Linked DNA regions of Homo sapiens: region 2 is linked to region 1. The links come from fine-mapping of genetic effects on gene expression. A gene starts in region 1. The other region holds a variant in brackets. All regions are shown on one strand. Distances are between the middles of the regions. Region 1 holds the start of TMCC1 (transmembrane and coiled-coil domain family 1). Region 2 has its middle 26 kb from the start of TMCC1-DT.

Evidence for each region.
Region 2: its variant is fine-mapped to the expression of TMCC1 in whole blood (TOPMed, PIP above 0.99).

What each region holds. Positions count from the first base shown.
Region 1 is chr3:129,888,916-129,898,023 of GRCh38, forward strand. It overlaps TMCC1 (transmembrane and coiled-coil domain family 1), which reads right to left and starts at 4,796. Exons shown (of 7, transcript NM_001017395.5): 1 at 4,579-4,796. It overlaps TMCC1-DT (TMCC1 divergent transcript), which reads left to right and starts at 4,956. Exons shown (of 3, transcript NR_037893.1): 1 at 4,956-5,012. RefSeq lists enhancers at 3,378-4,170, 4,171-4,962 and a silencer at 4,324-5,053.
Region 2 is chr3:129,915,053-129,924,160 of GRCh38, forward strand. No RefSeq gene overlaps it. Among named protein-coding and RNA genes, the nearest start is that of TMCC1-DT, 26 kb to the left of the region's middle. The variant T/A (reference allele first, on the strand shown) is at 4,918.

The sequences.
Region 1 (9,108 bases):
TTACATTCTTGGCCTAACCACAATGAAAACATCAGATAAATCCCAAAGAACGTTCTATAAAAATACCTGACCACGGCTGGACACAGTGACTCACGCCTGTAATCCCAGCACTTTAGGAAGCTGAGGAGGGTGGATTGCTTGGTTCTAGGAGTTCGAGACCAGCCTGGGCACCATGGTGAAACCCCATCTCTACAAAAAGTACAAAAATTAGCAGAGCATGATGGCACACATCTCTGGGCCCAGCTACTCCGGACATTGAGGTCAGAGGATCACTTGACCCCAGAGTGTTGAGGCTGCAGTGAGATGAGATCGTTCCACTGCACTCCAGTCTTGGTGACAGAGGGAGATCCTGTCTCAAAAAAACAAACAAACAAAACCTGACCAGTAATGTTCAAAACTGCCAAGGTCACTAAATACAGGGAAAGTCTGAGAAATTGTCACAACCAAGAGGAGCTAAGGAGACATAATTACTAAATGTAATGTGGTATTGTGGATGGGATCCTGGGATAGTGAAAGAACATTAAGGAAAAAACCTGTGGAAACCTGATAAAGTATGGTCTCTGTGATAATGTATCAATACTGGTTTATTAATACAGACAAATGATCACAGGGATGTAAGACGTTAATAATATGGGAAACAGTGTAGGATAGGCAGGAACTCTGCAGTATCTTTGCAATGTTTCTGTAAATCTAAATTTTAAAGTCTATTTTTAAAAATTATAACAAATTTATGATCAACGGCATCCCTGGAATTTTACTCAGTGCATCTAGGACACAAAAGATACTTAAAATATGGTCTTTGCCTTCAAGAAGCTTGTTGTCGCAGAGTGAAGACAAATGCTCATGAAACTAGTATAAAATACAAAAATAAGAAAAAATTAAATTGAAGAGTAAAGATAAAACTATATTAAGAATATAAAGAAGGTCTAGAATTATCAGGAAAGATTTGGTCAAGGAGATAAAACTTGAATTTGTACCTTAAAATATACTTCAGAGTAGCAAAGTTAAAAAAAAAAAAAAAGAATAAACTAAGCTCACAACAACCAGAAGGGTGAAGAAATAAGAAAAAGCTAACAGAAATTAAAATGGCTGGGGCATGGTGGCTCATGCTTATAAACCCAGCACTTTTGGAGGCCAAGGCAAGGGGGATCACTTGAGGCCAGGAGTTTGCCTAGGCAACATATGAGACCCCATCTCTCTCCATAATATCTTTAAAAAAAAGAAAAATAAAAACATTCAGCTCTGAAAAGTGAAGACTTAAATAGGAGACATAATAGCAGTGCTCAAACACTTTAAGGGTCATGTGGCAGAACTAACAGAGTTACACCTATACCCATTTAACTTACAAGCCAACCTCTGGCAAAATGTGACCAATGCTCAAGGACAAAGAGAGTGACAGCTGTTCAGTGGAGCCACAACAGGAAATGCCAATATGGATAGACAGGAAGCAGGTGGCTAAGTTCTCTACAACTTTTCAAAGGACAGTATGTATGTGAGCCCAAAGAAGTAAAAATCAGATTCTAATTCTGCAAATGTTTACTGACTATCTTAAGTGCCGGGCTCTTTCAAATACATTATCTTGTTTAATATTCGCAACACATCTATGAGCATGTATTAATGTAATAGAGGCTTAACATAAAAATAGAATTAAACCCTGCATGGAAACAGGAACATGTCAAAATTCTATACCATCCCCCACTCTCTGATAGGGACTCCAGAGCAGTTTTAAAAAGCCAAACAGTCTGAAGGCCCAGATACCTATATAACAATTTATTTCCTCTTGCTCTTTCCCTCAGTCAAGCTCTGTGGCTCTCAGCCTTTCATATTCGTAAGAATTTTATACAACTATACATACAAAAACATGCAGACCATACTTTTTGAGCAATTTATGGAATTTTCCAGAAGAGTTTTCATCTTACATGATTTTTGCCTCATGCACTAACTTGAGGACCTAACCCTGGGATGAGGTGCAACTCCACTGCAGTCTTACTCCATGGGTACTGTAAGGCAGGATCAGGAAGAGGAAACGGAAAGGTACCATCCTATTACATGAAGAACAACATTCTAACAAAGACATAAAATGTATTTACATAAAATGTAAGAATGACATGTTATGTGGGGAAGTTCAACACTGGAAAACAAGAGCAGCTCATCTGCACCTGCAGACCTTTGCACTCACTGTTTCATTTACCAGGAAAGCGCTACCATTTTTCAGGTCACAACTCAAATACCTTCTCCTTAATGAGGCCTCCTCTCACTAAGTAACCCTCCACCCACCTTTCAGTCATTCACTTGTCACATCAGCTTGTTTTATTTTCTTCATAATTCATATTAGGGGTCAGCAAACATTTTCTATAAAAGGCCAGACTATAATCTATAGGCCAAATCCACCTTGCCCCGTTTTATATGGCTAAGAATGGTTTTACATTTTTAAATGGCTAGGGGAAAATATTTTTAAAAACTCATTAATATTCTGTGACATGTGAAAATTTTATGAAATTCAAATTTCAGTGTCCCAAGTTTAACTGGAATATAAACATATTTGTTCACGTACTGTCTGTGGCTGCTTTTGTACTAAAACAGAATTGAGTAGTTGCAAAAGAGATCATATGGCCCAAAAACCCTGGTATGTACTGTACTTCCTGGTCCTTTACCAAAAAAAGCTTACTAACCACTGATTTATATCATTATCTGAAATGATCCTATTTGCTTGTTTGTTGTATATTCCTCATTCCCATACATACAGAATAAAGCTTAATTAGGGAAGAGGCCTTGTCTGTTTTGTCCCAACAATGTAGCCCAGTACTTAGAAAACATCCTGGAACAAAGTAAGGGCTCAATAAACATTTGATGAATTAATGAATGATCCATAAATGCCACTCTGAGGAGCTTAAACCTAAGCCCTGAGCCATTATATGTTCTGCACATTTATGAGAGGCATAAGCAGTCTTGCAGAAAAGGGGAAATATTCTACTATCAAGAAGGCCCAGTTTAAAGTAATGGTGGTTGGTCACCAACTAGTCTAGGGCACTGGGGTTCTTCATCAAATTGTAGACTACAGGTCTTTTGTGCTCATAAAAGAGTCCTTCTGCAAGGTGTCCCAACACTGTCAGCGGTCTGTGCTTCTGTTTATCTTAAGATGCAAATGCTCTGAGAAATCTCATTCTTATACACAGTACACAGCACCTACACCATACCAAATCTTAATCAATGCTCATAATTATAACAGTTCTACATCACATGCTAATGAATTTTTAACGTCTAAAATTTTCCTATGCTGCTGATCAGCAATCTATAAGCAGCTCAAAACTCTTCAGAAATTAAAAGGTTACCACCCACAGACCAGAAGCAGCTTTTTAATCTTTCTACACTAGCCAGAGAGTGGGTGATTGCAAAAAAATACAAGCCAACTCTGTTGGTAGAGGACAGGGTTATTAAGTTAAAATCCCATCTATAAGCATCGTTTTGTCACATGACACTAGTAAAACTACCACCTACTCACAATTTGAGTTTCAATCTCCTAATATACAGAGAAAAAAATGTATCTACCTCCTGGAACAAATCAAAGTTTTGTTTTATTTTAAAGCAGCTATCTGATATTTATGCCCTGGATTTTTTTTTTTTAAGAACAGAATAAGCTAATTTAGGAATTCACACCTTTCGTAGAGATGCTTATGGTACAGGTACCTCTGACGGCTAGGCTCTACCAACACTAACGTGTAACGTGTCACAAAAGCCAACGGGCGTTGCGGGGGCCGGGGGTAGCCAACAGCTCAAGTGGGCTGCTTCACTCCGTGGCAGATTCACCTGGGGATTCCTCACCAAGAATGTTGTTAAGGGACGAACCAAACCAACCACAAATGATACCCCTTTACCGAGGCTGAAAAAGCAGAGATTCGCAAGCTATAAACGAATCTCTGGCCCTTTAGGGAAGGTGCAACTCGCTGCACCTCTTTCCCCTATCCTACAGGGGTTAACAGGGGGCATCCTGAGGCCGAGACCAAGCCCAGCCAGCTCCTCCTCACATCCCACCTCCCACTACATATTCTCCCCAGTACGCCGGGCTCCCTCCTCCCCTCGAAAGACAGTTCAAAATCAAAACAATAGGTGCAAAACTGGTTTCAGGTGGAAATGGCTGAGTCCTGGTGGCTAACTTCTGGGACGCCATGGCGATCGAGGGCTCCTAAAACCCCAGATTCCGACGGGAACCGGCTCCTAAACAGTCCCTCGGGCCTCGGCCCGACTTCTCACACGCCCCTCCCTCACCTCGGCCCTGGGATGCTGGGAAGGGAACGAGGCGAGGGGCTGGAGGGGAACCCCAGGTCAAAATGACAGCGGAATGAGCCGGGAAAGGAAAGAGGCCCCGTGGGATGCTGGGGGTCGAGTCCTAGGCCCGGGGCTTCAACCTCGAACGGGGGCGACGGCAGGTCCCAGCCCCGACAGGCCGCGAGCGGGAGGCCAGGCCCGCGTCCGCTGCGCCGCCAGGCCACGCTCCCTCACGACTGTCCCCACCCACCGCGGAGGGCCGTGAGGGGGCCGCGACCGCCGCCAGCGTCCGGGGCGGGGGCGCTCACTCACCGGCGGGGAGGGGAGGAGCAGCCGGCGTCTCCGCCAGCGCCGTCGCTCGAGCTCAAGCGCCTGCTCCTTCCACTGCGGCCGCCGCACCCGGTCCATCCCCCACAACCACCCCCCCCTCCCGACCCTCCCCCCGCGCCGCCTCAGCCGCCGCCGCCTCAGTCACCGCCACCGCCGCCGCCGCCTCAGCCCCGGCGCGGGAGGGCGAACCGGCGCGAGAGAGCGAGCGCGCGCGCGCCCCCGCCACAGCCGCCACCGCCCACAACCTCCGCCCCCGGCCGGCGGCGCACGCGCAAGGGAGCGGGCGGACGGGCGCGCGCACGCCGCAGGGGCGGGGATGGGCCCTGGAAGGCGTGGCCCCTCCCCTAGCCCGCCTTCCCACGCGGTCTCTGGGCTGGTTGAGCTGCGCCGCTGCAGGTAGTGCTGAGTTGCTCCAGGTAAGCTCCTCCTCTCAAAAAGCTCTAGGAACCGAGCCACCCTCGCCCTAGGAGCAACGCCCCTGAGTAATATGGGGTTTCGTCGGATTTCTGCCCGCCGCTCTGGATCACACGTTTGTTCTCCCTATTTGAGTCGCAAGGCCTTCCTTCATTCCACCTAGCAGGCTGCTTGGAAAAGGGCAGAGACTCATTACTTTGCACCAGGTATTACCACTGAAGGGATTGTAAGCAGCCACCAGCCCATCCCTTTATAATTCCCATTTTCCTAATTTATTTTATTTTTATTACTTATGTAATGAGGCTTCTTCCGTGTTCAAGGAGCTGGGAGTACCATATGGGGTCAACGGAGTCCCTGGTCTCATGAAGTTTGAGATCTGGTGGAGAAGGAAAACATTCATGGGAGAATCAGACAAAATTAAGTTTTCAATTAGTAAAAATCTTCTGAGAGGTATATGGTACTAAGAGAATCTTTATGGGGGAATTGATTTAGTTGAGGATGAAGAGGGTAGAATCTGAGGAATTGAGTTGGGAGGAGTTAGTTGCTCCAAGGGGTGAGGTCTTGGCATGGCCAGAATGGGGAGCGCTAAAGAATATTGAATGTGGAGTAGACTGCGAGTGTGGGAAGAGGTAGGCGAGAACAGGTGAGGATTGGGGACCTATTTATTTATTTATTTATTGAGACAGAGTCTCACTCTGTCACCCAGGTCACCCAGGCTGGAGTGCAATGGCTCGATCTCAGCTCACTGCAACCTCCGCCTCCTGGGTTCAAGCGATTCTCCTGTCTCAGCCTCCGGAGTAGCTGGACTACCAGCGCACGCCAGCGCACCTGGCTAATTTTTGTATTTTTAGTAGAGATGGGGTTTCGCCATCTTGGCCAGGCTGGTCTGGAACTCCTGACCTTGTGATCTGCCCGCCTCGGCCTCCCAAAGTGCTGGGATTGCAGGCATGAGCCACCACACCCGGCCGGATTTGGGACTTTAATCTGAGTGCTTGGTAGAAGCTATTCAGGTTTTTTTCAGCAGGGTTGCAGGGGAAATAACTTGATCATTATGTCTGTTTTTTGTTTTTGAGAGGCAGACTGGAGTGCAGTGGCGCGATCTCGGCTCCCTGCAATCTCTGCCTCCCGGGTTCAAGTGATTTTCCTGCCTCAGCCTCCCTAGTACCTGGGACTACAGGTGCACGCCACTGCACCCAGCTAATTTTTTTAGTATTTTTAGTAGAAACGGGGTTTCACCATGTTGGCCAGGATGGTCTGAATCTCCTGACTTCATGATCCACCCACCTCGGCCTCCCAAAGTGCTGGGATTACAGGTGTGAGCCACCTTGCCCCCAGCCCATTATGTCTGTTTTTAAGTTACTTAGATAGCAACGTGAAGAGTGGTCTGATGGGAGTCTCAAAGCTGGGGCCGGGAAGCCAGTTAGGAGGCCACTGGCCACATAGTCAAGGCAAAGTAGGAGGGTAGTGACAGAGAAGAGTGCTAATGTAGTGGTAAAATGGACAGGACTTGGCAATAAATTGAATGAGGAGTGAAGGAGAAGGAGGTGGCAAGGTTTACTTAGATTTGAGGTTGGTGGAGGATGCATTTATAGATTTCAGAAGCACTGAAGGAGCCACCTGAGGTAACTCAAAATGGATGATAAACCTAAATTTAAAAGCTAAACCTATAAAAGAAAATTTTAGAAGAAAACATAGAAAAAGTATTTGTGACCTTGGGATAGGCAAAGACTTCTTAGGACACAAAAAATATGAACCATAAAAAGTGATTCATGGCCTGGCTCACACCTGTAATCCCAGCACTTTGGGAGGCCAAGGCAGGCAGATCACTTGAGCTCAGGAGTTCAAGACCAGCCTGGGCAACATGGCAAAATGCTATCTCTACAAAAAATACAAAAGTTAGCTGGGCTTGTTGGCACGTACCTGCAGTCTCAGCTAACTTGTGGGGCTGAGGAAGGAGGATCACTTGAACCTGGGAGGCGGAGGTTGCAGTGAGCTGAGATGGCGCCACTGCACTCCAGCCTGAGTGACAGGGTGAGACCCTGTCTCAAAAAAAAAAAAAAAAAAAAGAAAGCAATTGATAAGTTGAACTCTATCAAAATTAAAAACTGGTACTCTTTGAGAGACAACATTAAGAAAATGAAAAGGCAAGCCACAGGTGGAGAGTTTGCAATAGAAAGCATTAGACAAAAGTCTTGTATCCAGAATACATAAAGAACTGTTATAAATGAGTAATAAGCCAGCCCAATAAACCAATGGGCAAAGGCTTTTTTTATATCTTGTAGATAGTTCACAAGATACAAAAATGGCCTATAAGCAATGAAGAGATTACCAACATCTTTAGTCAACTAGGGATTTTTCCATTTAAAACCACAACACTCTCATTAGGATAGCTAAAATTAAGACCGATGACCCAGCAATCACACTCCTACACATCTCCTTAACCATACTTGATCTCTAAAGGCTGACAATAACACACCAGGGACCCTGTAATCCCAGCACTTTGGGAGGCCAAGGCAAGAGGATCGCTTCAGCCCAGGAGTTCAAGACCAGCCTGGGCAACCTAATGAGACCCCATTTCTACAAAAAAAATTTTTTTTAATTAGCCAGTGTGGGAGTGTACACCTGTAGTCCTAGCTACTGGGGAGCCTGAGGCAGGAGGATCCCTTGAGCCCAGGAGTTCAAGGTTGCAGTGACCTATGATCGCACCACTGTACTCCGGCCTGGGTACCACAGCAAGACCATATCTCTTAAAAAAAAAAAGTCTTTGGCTGGGCGCAGTGGCTCACGCCTGTAATCCCAGCACTTTGGGAGGCCAATGTGGGCAGATCATGAGGTCAGGAGTTTGAGACCAGCTTGGCCAACATGGTGAAACCCCATCTCTACTAAAAATACAAAAATTAGCCGGATGTGGCAGCGTATGCCTCTAATCCCAGCTACTCAGGAGGCTGAGGCAGGAGAATCGCTTGAACTTGGGAGGCGGCGGTTGCAGTGAGCCAAGATCATGCCATTGCATTCAAGCCTGGGTGACAGAGTGAGACTATGTCTCAAAAAAAAAAAAAATTTAAAGACAATAACAAAGTCATACTTTCACTTAACATGATATAACTATCCTGCATACTATTGAAAACATAACAACACTTTTCCCAAGGGGATGCAAAGTCCTTGAGTGATGTTTCTTCTCCACCTTTGATGTCTTATAACTTAATACTGCAATATAAAGTTACCTATCATTAATACGTCTCCATCTTGTAGTAGCAACCGAATTTCCTGCTTAGTAATCAGGATTAGTCACCTCAGCCAGTAGAGGAACTTCCCACTTTACCTGTTGATTCAGAGGCATGAAAGACCCAAGGTGGCCAGGTGACCACCTCAACTCCCAATTCAATGGAAATGTTGTTGGGTCTCCTGGTGGAAGCATTCCTTCTTTTGGAACTAAGACCTCTTGGTCAGAAGAGCCTCTGGACGTTTCTACTTTCAGGAAAAATGAACAACCAAGTACACTCTTCAAAGTTCTGCCAACTGGGGGATTTTTTTTTCACCATTATTCTTCAGGGATGTCCCAGAAAGGGACACTAGTTTTATTTTCACTGGTGCCTGCATATTGTGCAGAACCATCATAAACCTGGGCTATGAACCACAACTGAGTTTTCCCTTCTTCAGTCAACTGGTCATAAGGAATGCCCCATGGCGCCATAGGTGCAGGCTGGGAGAGAGAAGGTAATGTAGCAGGAGTTGGGGCCATGGATATTTGGGCCACTTCCTCGTGCAACTTACCTATGCCTTCAGGGCCCATTTGAGCCCAATCTCATATATACCACTTCAATTTGATAATGGAGTGTTGCTGTGAGTGCACAACTTTATAGCTTGGTGGATCAGATAACACTTAGTTCATGATGAGCAGCTCAGGTCACATGGTAACTTGATGACCCACGGTTAACTGTTCAGTCTCTGCTTAGGCCCAGCAAGCCAAACGTTGTTTCTCAAGAGGACAGTACTCTTCTGCAGGGCTTTGCTCCAAAATCTTAAGGGTCTGCAGCGTGATTCACCTACAGTGGCCTGCCAAAGGCTCTAAACAGCATCTGTATCAGCCCCTTGCAG
Region 2 (9,108 bases), 26 kb after region 1:
ATGTTCACAGCAGCATTATTGATAATAGTCAAAAGGTGAAAACTACCTAAATCTCCAACAATGATGAGTGAATGAACAAAATGTGGCATAGCCATACAATGGATTACTATTTGGCCATAGAAAGGACTGAAATACTGACACAAGCTGCAATGTGGATGAAACTGGAAAACGTGTGAAGTGCAGAGAGCCAATCACAGAAGACCACACGTTGTATGATTCCATTTACATAAGATGTTCAGAACAGCCAAATCCATAAAGACACAAAGTAGATCAGTGGTTGCTCAAACCTGGGACAGAGCGCACACACGCGCACACGTGTGTGTTAAAAACAACAACAGAAATCAGCTAGAGGTGCATGGTGGCTGCCCTTAGACCTGGCCCGTGCACTCGTTTGCCACAGTCTCCACCATGCCCTGTTACTCCCCGACACTGCACCTAGGGGCCAGGTCCGTTTAGCACAGCACTTCCATCTGTGTTCCTCACACCCTGCTGCTTCCCCTCACCGACTTCACACCTGTCCTGCCCCAGAGGAAGTTAATTTGGTGATGGCCTATGTGAAGACAGTCAGTAGGTGGTTCCCGCCTGGAATCCCAGCACTTTGGGAGGCCAAGACGGGAGGATCACTTGAGCCCACGGGTTTAAGACCAGCCTGGGCAACATGGCAAAACCCTGTCTCTATAAAAAATACAAAACATTAGCCAGGTGTGGTGGCATGAGCCTGTAGTCCCAGCTTCTCAGGAGGCTGAGGTGGGAGAATCACTGGAGCCTGGGAGGTTGAAGCTGCAGTTAGCTATGATCGTGCCACTGCATTCCAGCCTGGGTGACAGAGCAAGATCCTGTCTCACAAAAAAAAAAAAAAAAAAAAAAGGAAAGCAAGGGTGAGTCAATGACAAGAAGGTGTGCAGTGTGGGTGACAAAAACAAGGGGGGAGTCTGCAAGGGGGAGCAGCTTGAGGGGAGCAGAGACTTCAAGGGGAGGAAGCCTGAGTGACTCAGCAATCATTGGGGGACATTAGGGCAGAGGGAGGAAGTACAGGCCGGGTGCGGTGGCTCACGCCTGTAATCCCAGCACTTTGGGAGGCTGAGGCAGGCAGATGACTTGAAGTCAAAAGTTCGAGACCAGCCTGGCCAACATGGTGAAACCCCATCTCTACTAAAAATACAAAAAATGAGCTGGGCGTGGTGGTGCACGCCTGTAATTCCAGCTACTCAGGAGTCTGAGGCAGGAGAATAGCTTGGCCCCAGGAAGTGGAAGTTGCAGTGAGCCAAGATCACACCATTGCACTCCAGCCTGCATGACAGAGTGAGACTCTGTCTTGAAAACAACAACAACAACAAAAAAAAAAACAAAAGAAGGAAGAAGTGCAGGATCCTGGGTGGAACATGTCGGGGTATTCAGGCACCAGGCAGGAGGCCATGACACCCCCCATTCCCCACCAAGGGATTCCTGGTGCCAGTGAGGGCTGAGCCATCAGGGACAGGGACAGGTGCACCCCTTCAGTGGCCATGTCCCTCCAGGCCGGCCTCCCCAGTGCTGCCCCCATGGGCCCCGCCTCTTCCAAAGCTTGCACCCCAGGAGACAATAGAAGCACCTCATCCTGGCATTTAGGGACCCTGGGAATCTGGCCCCACCTTATCCTTCCAGCCTGTACCTGCTGCCTCCGCTTATTCAAGACCTAAGTTTCCTGGTGGCCGTGCCCCCCATGGGGTGGCTGTCATCCAGGCAGGGGTATTCCTGGGGAGCCCTTCCCTTCCCTACCTCCAATGCACCTACAGGGCCCCTACTATTAATAGCAGCACCTCTGCCTGGGGCTCCCTGAGAGGCTGGGGTGGGAGAGGGGTGGTCCAGCAGGCAGTAATCAATGTCCCCAAATGGTGGCAAGTGTGTGTGAATATGTGTGCCGGTGTCTGTGTGTGTGTGTGTGTGTGTGTGTGTGTGTGTGTCTGTTTGTGTTTGTGTGTGTGTGTGGTGGGAGTTTCTGCACTGTGATAGGAGGAAAGCACAAGTGGTTCTGGGATCCAGGGCAGAAGGGGCTCCTCTGTGTCCAGGGCTCAGGGATGCTCCCCAGAGTACCGGATATCTCAGCTAGGACTGAAGGGACAGGAAGTCACTCAGTGCAGGAGAGTAAGGGGGGAACTCTAGGCAGTGGGGACGGTGTGTAGGAAACATGACGGTGTGGAAAATAAAAAGTTCCTCTTCAAAGTTTCCCTTCTTGTTAAAGAATAAATAATAAATGTTAAAAGTAATAGTTTCTTTTAAAGACTAACTTCCTCTTCCTTCCTTATTTGGAAATGTTATTACTTTTCTAAGACCTTTTGCAAGCAACTTCCTCTTTTCCTTTTGTTCTCCATTGCCTTTACCTATTTAGGAAAGTTTTAAGTTGTTAGCCAATTGAGTTTAGCTTAGATTGTGAGGTCCGTCTCCAAGCAACGAAGAGAGGACACAGCAGTAAGGACCCAGTGTGTAAGGGATAAATATTCCTGCCTTTCTTTATTCATCGTGCTCTTGTGGCAAAATTGCTGATGGGCAGCATCCTTTCTGCAGAAAGTAAAATTGCCTTGCTGAGAAAACTTTTTGTCTGAATGCTAATTTTTCCTTGTGGCACCAAGGAACAAGCATTTTGTTTTCAAGAATCACGTGACCCACCTGGGCACATGGGGTGGTCTGAAAGGCAGGGCTGTGGGGCTGCCCAGGTGAGCCCTGGTGGACAAGGAGAAGGGCTTCCCTCTGAAGCTCTCAGGGCCACCAGCTGGGTGGTGGAGCCCAGAGGTGGCTTTCCCTTGGATCCCTTTGGGAGCCTGAATGGAGGGGTGTGGGTGGGGGAGACTGGAGGCAGTGAGGCTGGTGTGGTGGTAAAGTTCAGTTGAGCCCACTCCCACGTCAGGAGCAGAGTCAGGGTTTGAAGGCTGTGGCCCAGCAAGGGGGCTCAGAACTATTCCACAGTGCCCACGGCCCTCAGAATACAGGCTCAGCTTCTGTCCTGGGACTCGAGCTCTCCCAACCTGGCCCCAGTCCTACCTTCAGACTAGCACATCACTCCAGCAAGACACCCTCGGTCATCCCTGAGCTTTTGCAGAGGCTACCCTCCTGCCCTTGTCCCTACTTACTTAGGCGACCTCTCCTCACACTGCAGGGCTCAGCACACTGGCCTCCAGAAAGCCTTGCTTCATCCCCCACCCAGCACTGACCTGCAGACCATCAGGGTTGTCGGTTAAAGGACCAAAGTCCGGACAGGAGGAAGAGGTTTTGACATCTAGCGCACAGCAGGGTGACCAGAGTCAATGAGAGTGTGTTGCATTTTGCAAAACAACTGAGAGAGTCCGTATCAAATGTCTCTCTGCATTTAGATTGGAGAGGATGAAGGCCCTGAGGTCCAAGAACATGGAAACCTGACAGTGGACGCCAACAGCTGTGGAGAGAAGCCGGGCGACAGCTGTGGAGAGAAGCCGGGCGATATGCTCACGCTTCCGTGTGCCCAGCAATCCTGCTTTATCTTTTTAAATAAAGGTGATTCCTGATAACACTACCGTTTCTTGCAAATTTTGTAGTAGCATTGGAAAGGTGGCAGATGAGTCACAGGCAATCTGCTGCTTTGCGCCCTCCCTGCACAGAATGGGGGCTGTGCACACCCTAGTTTAGGCAGTATGCAGTCATGTGATCCTCTCAGTTACTCAGAAAAACTGAAAGGAAAAGAGACCTCAGAGAAGTATCAGGATGACCCCACCCACAGAAAATCATTACCAGTGGCTCTGAAGGGCTGAGGCTCTGAGCAGGTGCAAGGCAGAGTCCCACACATTGTGCATGGCCTCCCCACACTCACACTGCCCAGTGAGCATTTTCAGAAGGACCAGCGGCCCCTTCAGGTCTCGTCTGACTGTGTTAATCATGCTGAGAGGTCTCCAGGAGGATCCTGAAGTCCTGGGAACCAGACTGTGCTGGGGTTAGAGTGGCATGGGGTCAGAGTGGCTCCCATCAGGGAGCTTCCTCATGTGTTATTAAGAAGTTTGAGGGAGGTCCAGAAGGCCCTGCCCTTGTGCATGGCCGGTGGCTCAGTGTGCACAGCCTAGAACATGCTGTGACCCTGCCCACTACTGATGGTGGCCAGGGACTGTCCTGGAGTTCCACTGGTCAAATACGATTCTCCTTCCCCAATAAAGAGCAGGACCAGGAAGCAAGAAGTGACCTGGGGAGAGGGTGGGAGTGCTGTGGGGCTCCTTGTCTCCCCAGTGTGCTGTTGTCCATAAAATCCACTTTGGGGTTAAGGGTCCCCCAGGTGTGAATACTGAAGAAAGAAGAAAGAAAAAAAGAAAGAAAGAAAGAAAGAGAGAAAGAGAGAGAGGGAGGGAGGGAAAGGAGGGAAGGAGGGAGGGACGGAGGGTGGGAGGGAGGGAGGGAAAGAAACAGAGAGAGAGAAAGAAAATAAAAGAAAGGAAAAGGAAAAAGAAGGAAAGGAAGGTAAGGAAAAGGGAAAGGGGGTAAGGAGGAAAGGCAGAAAAGAAGCTGATCTTTCTCTTTCCTTCTTTCTTTCCTTTCTTCCTCCCTCCCTCCCTTCTCTCCTTCCTTCCTTCTCTCTCTCTCTCTCTCTCTCCTTCTCTTTCTCTCTCTCCCTCTCTCTTAGAACAAGAATTCAAGGGGAGCGCCACGAAGAGAGATTTCACAGAGAAAGTGAATTTAGTATTAAACAGGTTATAATTAAGCTAAGAGGCTACAATTAGGACTCTTAGTAATGAGGGGGAATCCATATGCTTGTTATGTCAAAAATGTAAGTAAGCCAATTACATATTCTAGTACAATAGATCTGTGCTAGAAAGTCAGACCAAACATGAGACCAATTAAGATGAGGCATGACTTTAAACATATAATGGATGATAAATCTAAAAACCCATTTTCACAGGAAACAGTTTGATGCAGGGCTGG[T/A]ATGGAGTCATTGTGTCCAGTTTTATGTCTTGGATCCATAGGGGGAAAGTTACGTAATCATATTAACCTAAATGCTAGTTATTTATTTTACTTTTCTTATTTATTTTACTTTTCTGAATCAGCACACAAAGCATGAAAAGCTTAATTGTATTTACAGAAAATATAAAAATAAAACCATTTAAACAAGCTAGAGTTGACAGAATTTGGACAATAGGTGGGAAAAGGCCATGTAAAGTTATCAGCGGGGTCTTCGCTCATACCAGCCTGAACGCACCCGATCTTGTCGGATACAGCTGTCAGAGGCTATGGGACTTAGGAGTGGTACGCAGATGTCATTTCCCCGTGATAGCTCCCGAAATAGAGCTGAGAAGACAGGTACAGAGTTATAAAGGTGACCTCTAAATGAAGTTTGCTACAGGAGATGAGAAACAGTTACAATGAGTGTAGCCAGGGCATGGTACAAGTGAGCTAATTGCTCAACTTTTATGAAATTACAAATCTAGAAGTAGGGGGCTTACTCACATTTAGAGTTTTGAATAACTGCCAGAAAAATTAAAAACAGAAATGATTGAAAATATTTAGTGTGTTTCAGCCAGGCGTGGTGGCTCACATCTGTAATCCTAGCATTTTGGGAGGCTGAGACGGGTGGATTGCCTAAGCTCAGGAGTTCGAGACCAGCCTGGGCAACATGGTGAAACCTCGTCTCTACTAAAATACAAATAATTAGCTGGGCGTAGCAGCATGCGCCTGTAGTCCCAGCTACTCGGGAGGCTGAGGCAGGAGAATGGCTTCAACCCATGAGGTGGTGGTTTCAGTGAGCTGAGATAGTGCCACTGCATTCCAGCCTGGACAACAGAGTGAGACCCTGTCTCAAAAAAAATAATAATAAAATAAAAATATTTAGCGTGTTTCACGGAATGGGTGCTTCATACGGGTGCTGGATGAGTCCTCCTGGGGAGGTGGTGTTGGAGCAGAGCCCTGCAGGAAGCGTGGGAGTTAGCCCCGTGGCGCGCTCTGGGAACAGTGAGGGCCACTTTCGTCCCACAGCCAAGTGCAGGGTGTGTTTCAGGTCAGCAAGGAGTGAGGTTGGTCTAGGAGGAGCCAGCGGGAGAGCAATAAGAAACAAGGTTAGGAGAGCGGCTGGGGGCCAGCTTTTGGGTTTTATTCTGCATGTGATGGAAAACAAGGGAAGCTGAGTGGGCTGGGGAGTCACAGGATGTGGCTGCTGATGGCAGAACAAGGAGAAGACGGCTGGGTGCAGTGGCTCACGCCTGTAATCCCAGCGCTCTCGGAGGCCGAGGCAGGAGGATTGCTTGAGCCAAGAGTCCAAGATCAGCCTGGGTAACATGGCAAAACCCGCCTCTACTAAAAATACAAAAAATTAGCTGGGTGTGGTGGTGCACGCCTGTAGTCCTGGCTACTCAGAAGGCTGTGAGACAGGAGGATCACTTGAGCCCTGGAGGTGGAGGCTGCAGTGAGCTGAGACAGGTTCTTTCAGATTGGCATACATGTTAAATACAGGTTAGCATCCTAAATCTGAGAAGTGTGAAATCCAAAATGTGCCAAAATTTAAAACTTTTTGAGCACCTACATAACACTCAGAGGAAATGCTCTATTTGAGCATTTGGGATTTTGTATATTTAGATTTGGGATGCTCAACTGGTAATTATATATAATACGAATATTCCAAAAAAAAAAAAATTCAAAACACTTATGGTGTCAATCATTTTATAGATAAGGGGTACTCAAACTTCATGAATAATTTCCAGCATCAGTGAGGATGTAAGCCTGTGGGGTAATACCCACTCCCCAAAACTCTTCGTGAGCATATGGATTAGCGTAATTTCTCAGAGGGAATTGGGCAGTATCTATCTAGTATAAAAATTTCATATTTCATGAATCTCCATTTCTAGTAGTTTGTTATGTAAAATACTTGCACAATTAGAGGAAATATAAGCACAGATTGTCTATATAGCAATGTTCCTCTTTTTTTTTTTTTTTTTGAGATGGAGTTTCACTCTTGTCACCCAGGCTGGAGTGCAATGGCCGGATCTTGGCTCACTGCAATCTCTGCCTCCCAGGTTCAAGCCATTCTCCTGCCTCAGCCTCCCGAGTAGCTGGGATTACATGCACCCACCACAATGCCCGGCTAATTTTTTGTATTTTTTGTAGAAATGGAGTTTCGCCATATTGGCCAGGCTGGTCTCGAACTCCTGACCTCAAGTGATCCACCCGCCTTGGCCTCCCAAAGTGCTGGGATTACAAGCGTGAGCCACTGCGCTCAGCCTGTAGCAATGTTTCTAATAGAATACAAAGTAGGGACAAACCGGCCTGGCGCAGAGGTGGAGCTTGCAGTGAGCCGAGATCGCGCCACTAAACTCCAGCCAGGGCGACAGAGCGAGACTCCATCTCAAGAAAAAAAAAAAAAGGAAAGTAGGGACAAACCAAATTTCCATCATCAGACAAATAGATACACAAATAATAGTGCACTGGATATCGTGCAGGTTTTAAACATCACAAAAGAGCTCTGCTTCTGACTTCCAGTGATACCATGCAAGTAGGTAACAGATGCTTTACATCGGGTTTTCACGTGGGAACTCTGTCTAGCTTGGTTTCCTGATTTTTCAGTGTCACTAAGTGCAGCTTTTGAAAAGCAATTCAATTTATGGCCAAATGAAACTTTAAAATGTGTCTTCTCAAAAGCCAGTTCTACTTGTTTCCTGTCAAATGTATCCGTTCACCTGCCTGCCCATCGGTCTGTCCCCCAATTAATGGATTTGAGTGCCGTCTACTGAGCTGACAATCAATTCCATAACTTCACTGTTCCCAGTTATATACTAAGTGTTCAGCAAATCATTCTTTTTTTTTTTTTTTTTGAGATGGAGTCTTGCTCTGTCGCCCAGGATAGAGTGCAGTGGTGCGATCTTGGCTCACTGCAATCTCCACCTCTCAGGTTCAAGCAATTCTCCTGCCTCAGCCTCCCAAGTAGCTGCGATTACAGGTTTACCCCACCACGCCCAGCTAATTTTTGTATTTTTAGTAGAGACAGGGTTTCGCCATGTTGGCCAGGCTGGTCTCGAACTCCTGACCTCAGGTGATCCGCCTGCCTGGGCCTCCCAAAGTGCTGGGATTAGAGGTGTGAGCCACTGCACCCCGCCAGCAAATCATTCTTGATTGTGATGATGCATTTATCTCCAATTTCCCCCCCAACCTTATTTGTTACTGTTCTCCCCAGTGCACCCACAATCCATCCATGCAGGTTTATTTACTTCCCCAAGCTTCCTGTTTTTACTCCTATTTGTACCTATTCTCCAAGACAAAAAAAGAAAAAAGAGAGAAACCTAGGATTTTAAAACTGTTTCAGCCTTCCTTCCTTCATGAAGATTTCTCCAACAGCAACTCCCATGGCTCTGTGTATACTCAGTACTTTTAAATAGTAGGTCTGTTTTAGCACTTGAGCTAAATTGTTATGTTTGTATTAATTCTTCAATTTGGAGGCATGGTCAATGCTTGCTATTCCTTAGGATTGTTTATATCAGTGTTCCTGTGTAAGACTGGCTTATAATTTTTATTATTCCTAATATTTGTTTGGTTTTGGTATTAAGATCCTAGTGTTCTCATAGAATTTATTGGAAAACAGCCCCTTATGTCAAAGTAGCCCCTTATGTCAATTTTATGGGAGTATTTCTTAAAAATTAGAATGAGTTTGGCATTTAGTCAATAATACCATTAGGGCCGTGTGTGTGTGTGTGTGTGTGTGTTTGTGTGTGTGCGTGTGTGTATGTGTGTCAGAGACACAGAGAGACAGAGGCACAGAGGCACTTCTTAACTATTGATCAAATTTATATAGTAGCTATTGAGCTACTTAGGATTTCCATTTCCTCATAAATCAATTTCTTAAAGTTATATTTTTAGGGTATTGTCTACTTGGTACACATTTTCAAATATATTGGCATCAGTTTTTCACAATATGCACTATTATCTTTTAAAATATTTTCTACCTCTATAGTTATGTCTTCCTGTTAATTTCAAATATGAGTTTTTATGATTTTTTTCTTAGTCTCATTGAAGATTTGTATATGATACTTTTCTCAAAGAACCAACTGTTAGCTCTGTTACTTCTCTCTATCATTATCTTTATTTTCTGTTTCATTCATTTACCTGTTTATCCTTCCATTTATGTTATTTGAG